2 separate regions of the Homo sapiens genome follow, and region 1 is linked to region 2. Evidence: fine-mapped expression QTL. A gene starts in region 2. The other region holds a variant in brackets. All regions are shown on one strand. Distances are between the middles of the regions. Region 1 holds the start of MIR126 (microRNA 126). Region 2 holds the start of UAP1L1 (UDP-N-acetylglucosamine pyrophosphorylase 1 like 1).

The links. PIP is the estimated chance that this variant, and not a neighbour inherited with it, causes the effect.
Region 1: its variant is the best candidate, but not a certain one, in a credible set for the expression of UAP1L1 in skeletal muscle (FUSION, PIP 0.72).

The regions. Positions count from the first base shown.
Region 1 is chr9:136,670,067-136,675,424 of GRCh38, forward strand. It overlaps EGFL7 (EGF like domain multiple 7), which reads left to right. Exons shown (of 11, transcript NM_016215.5): 8 at 103-264; 9 at 884-948; 10 at 1,860-2,022; 11 at 2,198-2,612. The coding sequence ends at 2,220. It overlaps AGPAT2 (1-acylglycerol-3-phosphate O-acyltransferase 2), which reads right to left. Exons shown (of 6, transcript NM_006412.4): 5 at 4,669-4,741; 6 at 3,077-3,861. The coding sequence ends at 3,686. MIR126 (microRNA 126) reads left to right here and starts at 536; the gene lies at 536-620. RefSeq lists enhancers at 1-368, 4,709-5,208. The variant A/G (reference allele first, on the strand shown) is at 3,019.
Region 2 is chr9:137,074,092-137,079,449 of GRCh38, forward strand. UAP1L1 (UDP-N-acetylglucosamine pyrophosphorylase 1 like 1) reads left to right here and starts at 3,426. Exons shown (of 9, transcript NM_207309.3): 1 at 3,426-3,730; 2 at 3,959-4,163; 3 at 4,411-4,586; 4 at 4,885-5,057; 5 at 5,165-5,358. The coding sequence starts at 3,442. RefSeq lists enhancers at 191-804, 515-574, 4,150-5,028 and silencers at 3,259-3,348, 3,359-3,608, 3,619-3,678, 3,689-3,788.

The DNA.
Region 1 (5,358 bases), 400 kb before region 2:
TCCTGGGGTTACTGCTGGCCCATGAGTGGGTGGTTGTGAAGGGAGCTGTGTGGGCAGGACCCCTCCCGCAGGCATGGCCGCCTGACACCCCGTTTCCTGCAGATGTGGATGAATGCAGTGCTAGGAGGGGCGGCTGTCCCCAGCGCTGCGTCAACACCGCCGGCAGTTACTGGTGCCAGTGTTGGGAGGGGCACAGCCTGTCTGCAGACGGTACACTCTGTGTGCCCAAGGGAGGGCCCCCCAGGGTGGCCCCCAACCCGACAGGTAAACAGCCCTGGCTGTGCCTGGCCTGGGGAGGCGGGCAGGCAGTGGACATTGCCGTGTGGCTGTTAGGCATGGTGGGGGGCACTGGAATCTGGGCGGAAGGCGGTGGGGACTCCCTCTCCAGGGAGGGAGGATGGGGAGGGAGGATAGGTGGGTTCCCGAGAACTGGGGGCAGGTTGCCCGGAGCCTCATATCAGCCAAGAAGGCAGAAGTGCCCCGTCCCGGGGTCCTGTCTGCATCCAGCGCAGCATTCTGGAAGACGCCACGCCTCCGCTGGCGACGGGACATTATTACTTTTGGTACGCGCTGTGACACTTCAAACTCGTACCGTGAGTAATAATGCGCCGTCCACGGCACCGCATCGAAAACGCCGCTGAGACCTCAGCCTTGACCTCCCTCAGCGTGGCCGGGACCCTGAGCCTCTGCGCAGAGCCACCCGCCCCGACGTACTTAGGCGGCATAGCCCTGAGACCTCTGGCCAGCGCCAGGCAGGCAGCGGGGGCGGCAGAGGCCTGGGCCTGAGTCTTCTGGCTCTGCCTCTCCCTGGGGACAGGAGGGAGCCTGGGGGTGTGGGTGGGGAGCCGGCCGGCCGTGACCCAGCGCCTGGCTCTGCCCGCAGGAGTGGACAGTGCAATGAAGGAAGAAGTGCAGAGGCTGCAGTCCAGGGTGGACCTGCTGGAGGAGGTGAGGCATTGGTGGGGGGGGGGGGGGGCAGGCAGTCCAGGGTGGACCTGCTGGAGGAGGTGAGGTGTGGAGGGGCAGGCAGTCCAGGGTGAACCTGCTGGAGGAGGTGAGGCATCGGGGGGGTAGGCAGGCAGTCCAGGGTGGACCTGCTGGAGGAGGTGAGGCGTCGGGGGGGCAGGCAGTCCAGGGTGGACCTGCTGGAGGAGGTGAGGCGTCGGGGGGGCAGGCAGTCCAGGGTGGACCTGCTGGAGGAGATGAGGCGTCGGGGGGGGAGGCAGGCAGTCCAGGGTGGACCTGCTGGAGGAGGTGAGACGTCGGCAGGGGGCAGGTCTTCACAACAGCAGAGGCCCAGGCCCGGGTACAGGCTCCGTAGTCTCCTGGGACATGGTCCCGACCCACGGATGGCTGGGGGTGGTCTGAAAAGGTCCTGGCCCTGGGGAGGTGGCTTCCTCGCTGCTGACTGCCGAGGGGGCCCTGGCCTGGATCCATGCTGGGCAGAAGCAGCTGGACACTGACCAGGACCCCCCAGGGCCGGAGGAACCAAGCTTGACAGCCCCCCAGACAATACACAGAGCCTGGACCCAGACGAGACCTCCCCACCCCCCCATCTTTGTCCCCACCAGGACAAAGAGCTCTTGCCAGTCTTCCCACTGGCCAGTGGTCCAGCTGTCCCCCTAGTTCTCCTGCCAGGGACCCCAAGGCTGGGACCACCCCGCCAGCCTGATGCCCCAGGCACCCACTCTGCGGCAAGCTTTTCTGCCACGGCAGCCCCCTCTAGTGGACACTTGGAGCCCTGCCGCGGAGGCGGGGGCTGGAGGCTTGTGGAGCCCTTCCCAGGGGTCCTCCCTAGACCCCGGTGGAGCAGAGAGGGCGGGGGCCGGCCCAGGGTCACTGCCCTTCTGCACCCACAGAAGCTGCAGCTGGTGCTGGCCCCACTGCACAGCCTGGCCTCGCAGGCACTGGAGCATGGGCTCCCGGACCCCGGCAGCCTCCTGGTGCACTCCTTCCAGCAGCTCGGCCGCATCGACTCCCTGAGCGAGCAGATTTCCTTCCTGGAGGAGCAGCTGGGGTCCTGTGAGTGCCCCCACCCTCCAGAGCCCTCCTCCCGGGTCTGGGCCCAGTGGGCCTAGAGGGGCTACCCAGGCTTGGGGGTCGGGGGCGACCAAAGGCCAAGGGGCCAGTCAGATCTAGCTGGGCGGGGAGGCTGTGGGGAGCAGTGATCTCTGACCTTCGCCTCATCCAACCCTAGGCTCCTGCAAGAAAGACTCGTGACTGCCCAGCGCCCCAGGCTGGACTGAGCCCCTCACGCCGCCCTGCAGCCCCCATGCCCCTGCCCAACATGCTGGGGGTCCAGAAACCACCTCGGGGTGACTGAGCGGAAGGCCAGGCAGGGCCTTCCTCCTCTTCCTCCTCCCCTTCCTCGGGAGGCTCCCCAGACCCTGGCATGGGATGGGCTGGGATCTTCTCTGTGAATCCACCCCTGGCTACCCCCACCCTGGCTACCCCAACGGCATCCCAAGGCCAGGTGGGCCCTCAGCTGAGGGAAGGTACGAGCTCCCTGCTGGAGCCTGGGACCCATGGCACAGGCCAGGCAGCCCGGAGGCTGGGTGGGGCCTCAGTGGGGGCTGCTGCCTGACCCCCAGCACAATAAAAATGAAACGTGAGCTGCTGTGTCAGTGGATGGACTGGGGGCCTGGGAGGAGGGCGCTCACCTCCTGGCCACCCCTCCCAGACCCACTGCTGGGTGCCAGCTGGCAAAGGGGGCCTGGTGGAGCGGGCAGTCGTGGGGTGGGGAGGGGGTCCAAGGCAGAGGGGGTGGGCAGGTGGTTTCTGTGAGGCCACAGAGAGCTTTGTCCTGGGGACATGTTGGCCCCAACCAGAGGCCAAAGAGCAAATCTCTGGCCTCCTTCCCAGTAGCCTGAGGATCCCGGCACACTTGCCCGTTAGGCGACACCCCCACCCATCGATGGAAGTAGTATAGGGTGATGTGGGTCCACTCCTGGATAGGGAACACGGGTGGGTGGCGGTGCCTGCACCCTGGGCCTCTAGGCAGGGCAGCTGGGAAGACAC[A/G]GCGTCGCCTCCACCGCCCTGGTCACCTGCCCGCCCTGTGAGTGACCACAGCTCCCCAGCCACTTCCAAGAGTGTGTTTATAAAAAAACAGCAACGGAGTACAGTGCTGACCCCACAGAGTCTTCCAGGCCAGCAGGAGCAGCAGGCCCCGATTCCCGGCTCCCTGTGGCCCAGGGTGCGTGAGTCTGGGACTCCTGGCCCTCCAGGCCCCTCCTCTCCCAGAGAGCCTGATGCAGCTTGTGGGCTGGACCCTGGAGCCCAGCTGCACCCTGGTGGGTCCCAGGCGGCTGAGCAGAGGGCTCGGACAGTGTGCGTCTGGCCTCGGGGTCCTCCCATCTGCTCCTGGGCCATCGGGGGCCTTGTGGCTCAGCCCACCAGCGGGCCACAGCCGCAAGCCTCATCTTTATCATCCCAGCTCCCAGAGGTGCCGTGGGCGCGAGTCCCTGCCCTCGAGCCCGGGGAGGGTCCAGCTGAGCCCCCTGCAGGGGACACCAGGGGCCTGTGTCTGAGGCCAGTGACAGAAGGGGCTTCCTGCTTCCCGGGCTGAGTGAGAGCTGGGGGAGCCGGACAGAGTGGTATTTGGAAGCCGGGAGGAGTCCCCTCTGCCCATCCTCCAGCCATCGGCTTCCACCTGCCCTCCCCAGGTCATGCCCTGCCGTGGTCTGGGCTACTGGGCCGGCTGCACGCCAGACCCCGCAGTGGCCCCGTTCTCCTGGGGGGTCTTGGAGATGTGGAGGAAGGTGGTCCTCATGGCCCGGTGGCAGGTGTCCACGAGCGCAGGGACGTCCGCCGCAGTGAGGCCGCTGGTGGGGATGGCTTCCAGCACCTGCACTGTGACTGTTCCTGTGGGGGAAGCAACAGACCTCAGTGGCCTGTGGGGAGCTGGGGCCCACCTCAGCCTGCTGCCCTGGCCTCGCCTCTCCCCAGCCCCCCACAGCCCCTCCCTGGGAAGCCCGAGGCCGGGCTCTTCCCCTGGACTCCCTAGCCGTGGTGGGTTATTTTAATTGCAGTAACGTTGCTGCAGTAAACCCCATGGCTGCCTGGCCTTCACGCCGCATTTTCGACAAGTCTGCGCTCCCCTGTTACTGCCCCCAGAAAGCCCCACTTCCTGATCAGCCCCTACCTCACTGCCTGGCCTCTGCCCTCCATACGGGGCGAGGGGCTGTGGGAGAGATGGAGCTGGGTTCCCCCACTGCTCTCCAACTTTGACCCCACTGTCCTGCCTGGGCACCAGGTGCCCACGTTCTGGGAACTGGCTGGAAGGGGCAAGAGGTCATGAGCCCCGCAGCCTGTGCCCCTGGGCTGCCTGGGTTCCATCTACCCTATGCGGGCATCAGCCTGGACACATGGGCTCAGAGGCCGCCCTCCAGGCCCCCAAGCTGTGTGCACAGCTGGGGTCCATCCGTGTGAAGTCTCTTGGAGCCTCAGTTTTCTCATCTGAAAAATGGGCCCAGCACCACCCATCTCACAGGGCCATGAGGCCATGAAGCCCACAGCTGGGACTCCAGCCTGAGTCACTCATTCGCCACATGGTCACCGTGTGGCCACGCCACGGGTGCCACCCGGAAATGGGAACGATGAGGGGCCCGGGGCTCCGTGACTGTAGGGTCAGGCGGGGCCTACACCCCGGGTGCACACATGTGGGGGTACCTGAAGTGAAGAACTTCTTCTTGGTGTTGTAGAAGGAGGAGAAGGAAGAGTACACCACGGGGACGATGGGCACCTGCAGGCAGGGAGACGCACAGCTGAGGCAGCCCTGGGGACAGGCCAGGCACACCCCAGGCTGCATGTGGTTGGGGAGCCCTGTCCTGCGGCCCACCCACCCCTGCCTTCGCTGCTGCCATGGGTCCTTGTGGCTGTCCTGCCCCTGGGACCTGGGATATGTGTCCTGCTCTGGTTGGCCCAGAGTTCCATAAGCTCATCCTGCAAATTTTTACTCATCTCCTCTAGGAAGCCCTCCTGAGCTAGCACGTGTTTGCCTGGTTCACACCTGTCCCCATATTGGGTCTGCAGCTAGCCAGGGGGGCAGGGCCCTGTCCGGTTTAGGAGGAGATTATGGCACTCTTCCCTGCCCACGCCTCTCTCCCAGTCCTCTCCATCTCAGGAAGCCAGTGAGGGAGGCAGCCCTAGCCCGGGGGAGGGGTGGAGCCTGCTGGTGTTCCTGGAAGTCACCGGGGTCAAATCCAAGGGCACTTGGGGGTGATCATTAACCCGAGGCAGCCAGGGAACCTCCAGGGGGCCAGCAGGTAGGCTGGGGACTGGCAGCAGGAAGGGAGGGGGCCAGCAGGTAGGCTGGGGACTGGGAGCAGGGAGGGAGGGGGCCAGCAGGTAGGCTGGGGA
Region 2 (5,358 bases):
ATGGACTCTGGCCTGGGGCGGGAAGCCTGCTCTGCTCACCGGATTCCGCGAGCCTCCCCTCCAACTCCAACGTTCACCTAAACGATGTTCAACCACCACAAACCACTGGAGCAGAACAGGCCATTCATTAATTCATTCATGCAGCAGGTACTCCCTGAACATTTGCTGTTGCCCAGTCACGGTGTGGGCTGGGGTTCAACACTCGTTTGTTCAATCAACAAACATTGATTGAGTGCCTACTGTGTGCTGCATTTACCTGAGGTGATGGGGGCAGACCACTGGCCTAAACAATGCCCTGCCTGGGCTGGGCACGGTGGCTCATGCCTGTAATCCCAACACTTTGGGAGGCCGAGGCGGGCAAATCATGGGGTCAGGAGTTCAAGACCAGCCTGGCCAACCATCGCTACTAAAAATACAAAAAATTAGCTGTGTGTGGTGGCGGGCGCCTGTAATCCCAGCTACTCAGGAGGCTGAGGCAGGAGAATCACTTGAACCCGGGAGGCGGAGGTTACAGTGAGCCGAGATTGCACCACTGCACTCCAGCCTGGGCGACAGAATGAGACACGGTCTCAAAACAAAAAACAAAACAAAACAAAAACAGCAACTCCCCGCCTTTGTGGGGTTCGCTTCTCACAGGGGAGTCAGGTAGCCAAGAATGCAGAAAGGCAGCCTGGCACGGAGGATGGGAAGGTGCTCACCGAGTGGGCGTGGCCTGGGGAGCTGAGGCCTGACCAAATGCGTCCCCAGCCACACGTTTCTCTGGGGACAAGCGGTCCAGGAGGGAGGAACAGGAAGTGCAGAGACCCTGAGGCAGGCCCGAAAAGCAACTCCATGCAGGTCCAGAAGAGTGCATGTGGGCCTTGCCCCAGGGGTGAAGCCCCCTCCCAAACTCAGTGAGGGCATGTGTGTGGAGGTGGGGGCAGAACCCAACTGCAAGGAAACACAACTGCCTGAGGGGTCCACGGGGCAGCATGAGGGAGATGTTAGTTTTCATTTTGGGTCCTAGATCACTGTCAGAGGTGTGTGAACCAGAGCAACTCCATCTTGAATGGGAGCTGGGTAAAATAAGGCTGGGGCCTACTGAGCTGCATTTCTGGATGGTTAAAGGATTCCAAGTCAGGATGACACAGGAGGTCGGCACAAGATACAGGTCACAAAGACCTTGCTGATAAAAGAGGTTCCGATAAAGAAGCCGGCCAAAACCCACCAAAACCAAGATGGCAACGACAGTGACCTCTGGTTGTCCTTGCCGCTACACTCCCACCAGCACCATGACGGTTTACAGATGCCACTGCAACGTCAGGAAGTTCCCCTATATGGTCTACAAAGGGGAGGGATGAATTATCCACTCCTTGTTTAGCATGTCATCCAAAAAAACATAACAATGGGCAACCAGCAGCCCTCAGGGCTGCTCTGTCTGTAGAGAAACCATTCTTTATTCCTTTACTTTCCTGATAACTTGCTTTTGCTTTACTGTATGGGCTTGCCCTGAATTCTTTCTTGCGCAAGATCCAAGAACCCTCTCTTGAGGTCTGGAACCTCTTTCCTGTAACAGCATGATTTGTTTTTCTTTTTCGGTTTGTTTGTTTGTTTTTTGAGACAGAGCTTCGCCCTTGTTGCCCAGGCTGGAGTGCAATGGCGCGATCTTGGCTCATGGCAACCTCCGCCTCCCAGGTTCAAGCGATTCTCCTGCCTCAGCCTCTGGAGTAGCTGGGATTATAAGCATGCAACACCATGCTTATATATTTATATTTATATTTAATATTTGTATCTATTTTTAGTAGAGACAGGGTTTCTCCATGTTAGTCAGGCTGGTCTCAAACCCCAGACCTCAGGTGATCCGCCCGCCTTGGCCTCCCAAAGTGCTGGGATTACAGAAGTGAGCCACTGCGCCCGGTTTTTTTTTTTTTTTTTTTTTTGAGACAGAGTTTCGCTCTGTCACCCAGGCTGGAGTGCAGTGGTGCGATCTTGGCTCACTGTAACCTCCGCCTCCCGGGTTCAAGTGATTCTCGTGCCTCATCCTCCCAAGTAGCTGGGACTACAGGTACACGCCACCACACCTGGCTGATTTTTGTATTTTTAGTGGAGACGGGGTTTCACCATGTTGCCCAAGCTGGTCTTGAACTCCTGGGCTCAAGCGATCATCCTGTCTCGGTATCCCAAGGTGTTAGGATTACAGGCATGAGCCACTGCACCTGGCCACCATTTGAATTCTTTTATGCAGTCACATATATTACTTTTAGACTTACTATATAGTTTCTAGGAGAAAGTTTTGTGCCCAACTGGCAGAAGCTACCCTTTCATATTTTTCACAAGCAAACTATTTTATTTTTATTTTTATTGAGAAGTCTCACTCTGTCTCCCAGGCTGGAGTGCAGCAGCAGGATCTCGGCTCACTGAAACCTCCGCCTCCTGAGTTCAAGGCCTCCTGCCTCAGCCTCCCGAGTAGCTGGGACTACAGGCGCCTGCCACCACACCCGGCTAATTTTTCTATTTTTATTAGAGACGGGGTTTCACCATGTTGGCCAGGCTGGTCTCGAATTCCTGACCCCACTTAGGACTCCCAAAGTGCTGGGATTACAGGCTTGAGCCACCGCGCCGACCACAAGCAAGATATTTTAAAACCTGATAGTAAAATAACAATGTGGGCGAGGGGCTGCAGAGCGCTCTGGTCACCAGGCAATGGGAAGCAGGAAGGGTGTGCGGGAGGGAGCCCCAAGCCGCGGGATGGCATCCCGGAACCTGGTCTGGTTCCAGCCTCCCAACAGCTCAGCCGTAGCCCAGGCCTCTTCAATGCACTCTGGCCGGTTGTCTCTGCACCAGGAGGTCTCCGTCCAAGTCTTGGTTAGCGCAAAGGTGGCCATGCCACTCTCAGGTTCAAAGCCCGTGCTGGGACAGAACCTAGCTTTCCCCTGCGGGGCGTCCCTGGGGCCTCTTCCTCCCTTAGCTCAATGGTCGATTCCTCTGCCCACGCCAGCTGGCGCGACCCAGAGGGTCCTGGGATCTCTCGGGGCGGGGCGCGGAGTGGACAGGGCGGGCATGGGCCCGGGGCCTGGAGAAGAGCAGGAACGGGGACGGGAGCTCGAGGGAGCAGGCCAGGGCCAGACACCGGAGCGGGTCCAGGGGACGGAGAGGGACGGGGGACAGGCTGGAGAGATGGGGCTGGGCCCTGTCTCGAGTCTCGGACCGGACGCGGGGGGGCTGGGGGGATGTAGACAGGGCGGGGTCAGAGAGAACCCGGACAGAGTCTGGGGTGCGCAGCGGGGGTGGGCGGGCTCCAGGGCAGGGCGCGGGACCGGGCGGGATGGGGCGGGGCGGGGCGGGGCGGGGCGGGGCGCCCGGGGCCCGCCCCACTGGGGGGTCTACACCGCCCGCCCGGTCTCGTGACGCTGGTCAGTGGCGCGGGTCACGAGTGCCGACTTGACAGACGGCAGCGGCGACATGGCTTCGGAGCAGGACGTGCGCGCCCGGCTGCAGCGCGCTGGCCAGGAGCACCTCCTGCGCTTCTGGGCCGAGCTGGCGCCGGAGCCACGAGCCGCGCTGCTGGCGGAGCTGGCGCTGCTGGAGCCCGAGGCGCTGCGCGAGCACTGCCGGCGGGCGGCGGAGGCCTGCGCGCGCCCCCACGGCCCGCCGCCCGACTTGGCCGCGCGCCTGCGGCCCCTGCCCCCAGAGCGCGTGGGCAGGGCCAGCCGCAGCGACCCCGAGACACGGCGGCGCTGGGAGGAGGAAGGTAAGCGGGGTGGGAGGCCCTGGGGGCCGGCAGGGGGTCGTGCCCACGGAGCGGGTGGGAACCGAGGCCGCGCTCGGGGAACTGTAGTTCTCCTCGCTACTTTGAGACGTGTCTCGCCTCACGCGTTCCGGCCCCCGAGTCCTGGCGCCCCAGCCCCAGAGTTGGTTTCCCCTAAAGCGGAAGGGTGGGCGGGTCCCGGGCGTCCCTTCACGGCGCCCGTACCCCCAGGTTTCCGTCAGATTTCTCTGAACAAGGTGGCCGTCCTGCTGCTGGCTGGGGGGCAGGGCACTCGCCTGGGCGTGACCTACCCCAAGGGTATGTACCGTGTGGGGCTGCCCAGCCGGAAGACCCTGTACCAGCTGCAGGCGGAGCGGATTCGGCGGGTGGAGCAGCTGGCCGGTGAGCGCCACGGGACCCGCTGCACCGTCCCCTGGTGTGTCCTGCCTGCCCTACCTCGGCCCGGAGGTACCCTTCCCCACGCCCCCCCACATCCCCGCTCCAGACGCGAGCCCCAACCCCGGCACAGACCGGGACATTGCCCAGAACCGGCCCAAAATGGGGCCTGGCCCCAGCCCCAACTGGACACTGGACCCCGAACCCCGATGCCGGCTCTGGTCCGAGCCCCGTCTGCCTGCAGGGCCAGGCGTACTCGCGGCCGGCTCACCGCGCCTCCCTTGCAGGTACGTCATGACCAGCGAGTTCACTCTGGGGCCCACGGCCGAGTTCTTCAGGGAGCACAACTTCTTCCACCTGGACCCCGCCAACGTGGTCATGTTTGAGCAGCGCCTGCTGCCTGCTGTGACCTTTGATGGCAAGGTTATCCTGGAGCGGAAAGACAAAGTTGCCATGGCCCCAGGTGTGGCCCGTTCCTGAGACGGGGAGGGACCGCCCAGACTAGAACTGGGAGCGTAGTTGGGGGTCCACGCGCCCGGGTTCGCGGCTGCCCCGAGGCTGTGTGGTCCTGGGTTAGGCGCCTCTTTTTCTGGGCCTTGATCGTCATTTGTCACATGGTACACCAACTGGGCTGTCTGGTTAGTGACCAGGGCTGCCTTAGGCACAAGGCCGGGGCTTCCCCCGCCTCCAGCACGTCCTAGACTCCCAGAGCGATCCCTGGCGGGAGCCCTCGCGATGCCCATTCCCTTCTCCGTCTGCAGACGGCAACGGGGGCCTCTACTGCGCGCTGGAGGACCACAAGATCCTGGAGGACATGGAGCGCCGGGGAGTGGAGTTTGTGCACGTGTACTGTGTGGACAACATCCTGGTGCGGCTGGCGGACCCTGTCTTCATCGGCTTCTGTGTGTTGCAGGGCGCAGACTGTGGCGCCAAGGTTAGCGCCCGACTGCGCGGCGCCCCGCACCCGAGGCTGGCCCCGCCCCTCACGGAGCCCCGCCCCTCCGCCCAGCCCTCGGAACCCATCCCTGGTCTTGGCTGCAGGTGGTGGAAAAGGCATACCCCGAGGAGCCCGTGGGCGTGGTGTGCCAGGTGGACGGTGTCCCCCAGGTGGTGGAGTACAGCGAGATCAGTCCTGAGACCGCACAGCTACGTGCCTCCGACGGGAGCCTGCTGTACAATGCAGGCAACATCTGCAACCACTTCTTCACCCGAGGCTTCCTTAAGGCGGTCACCAG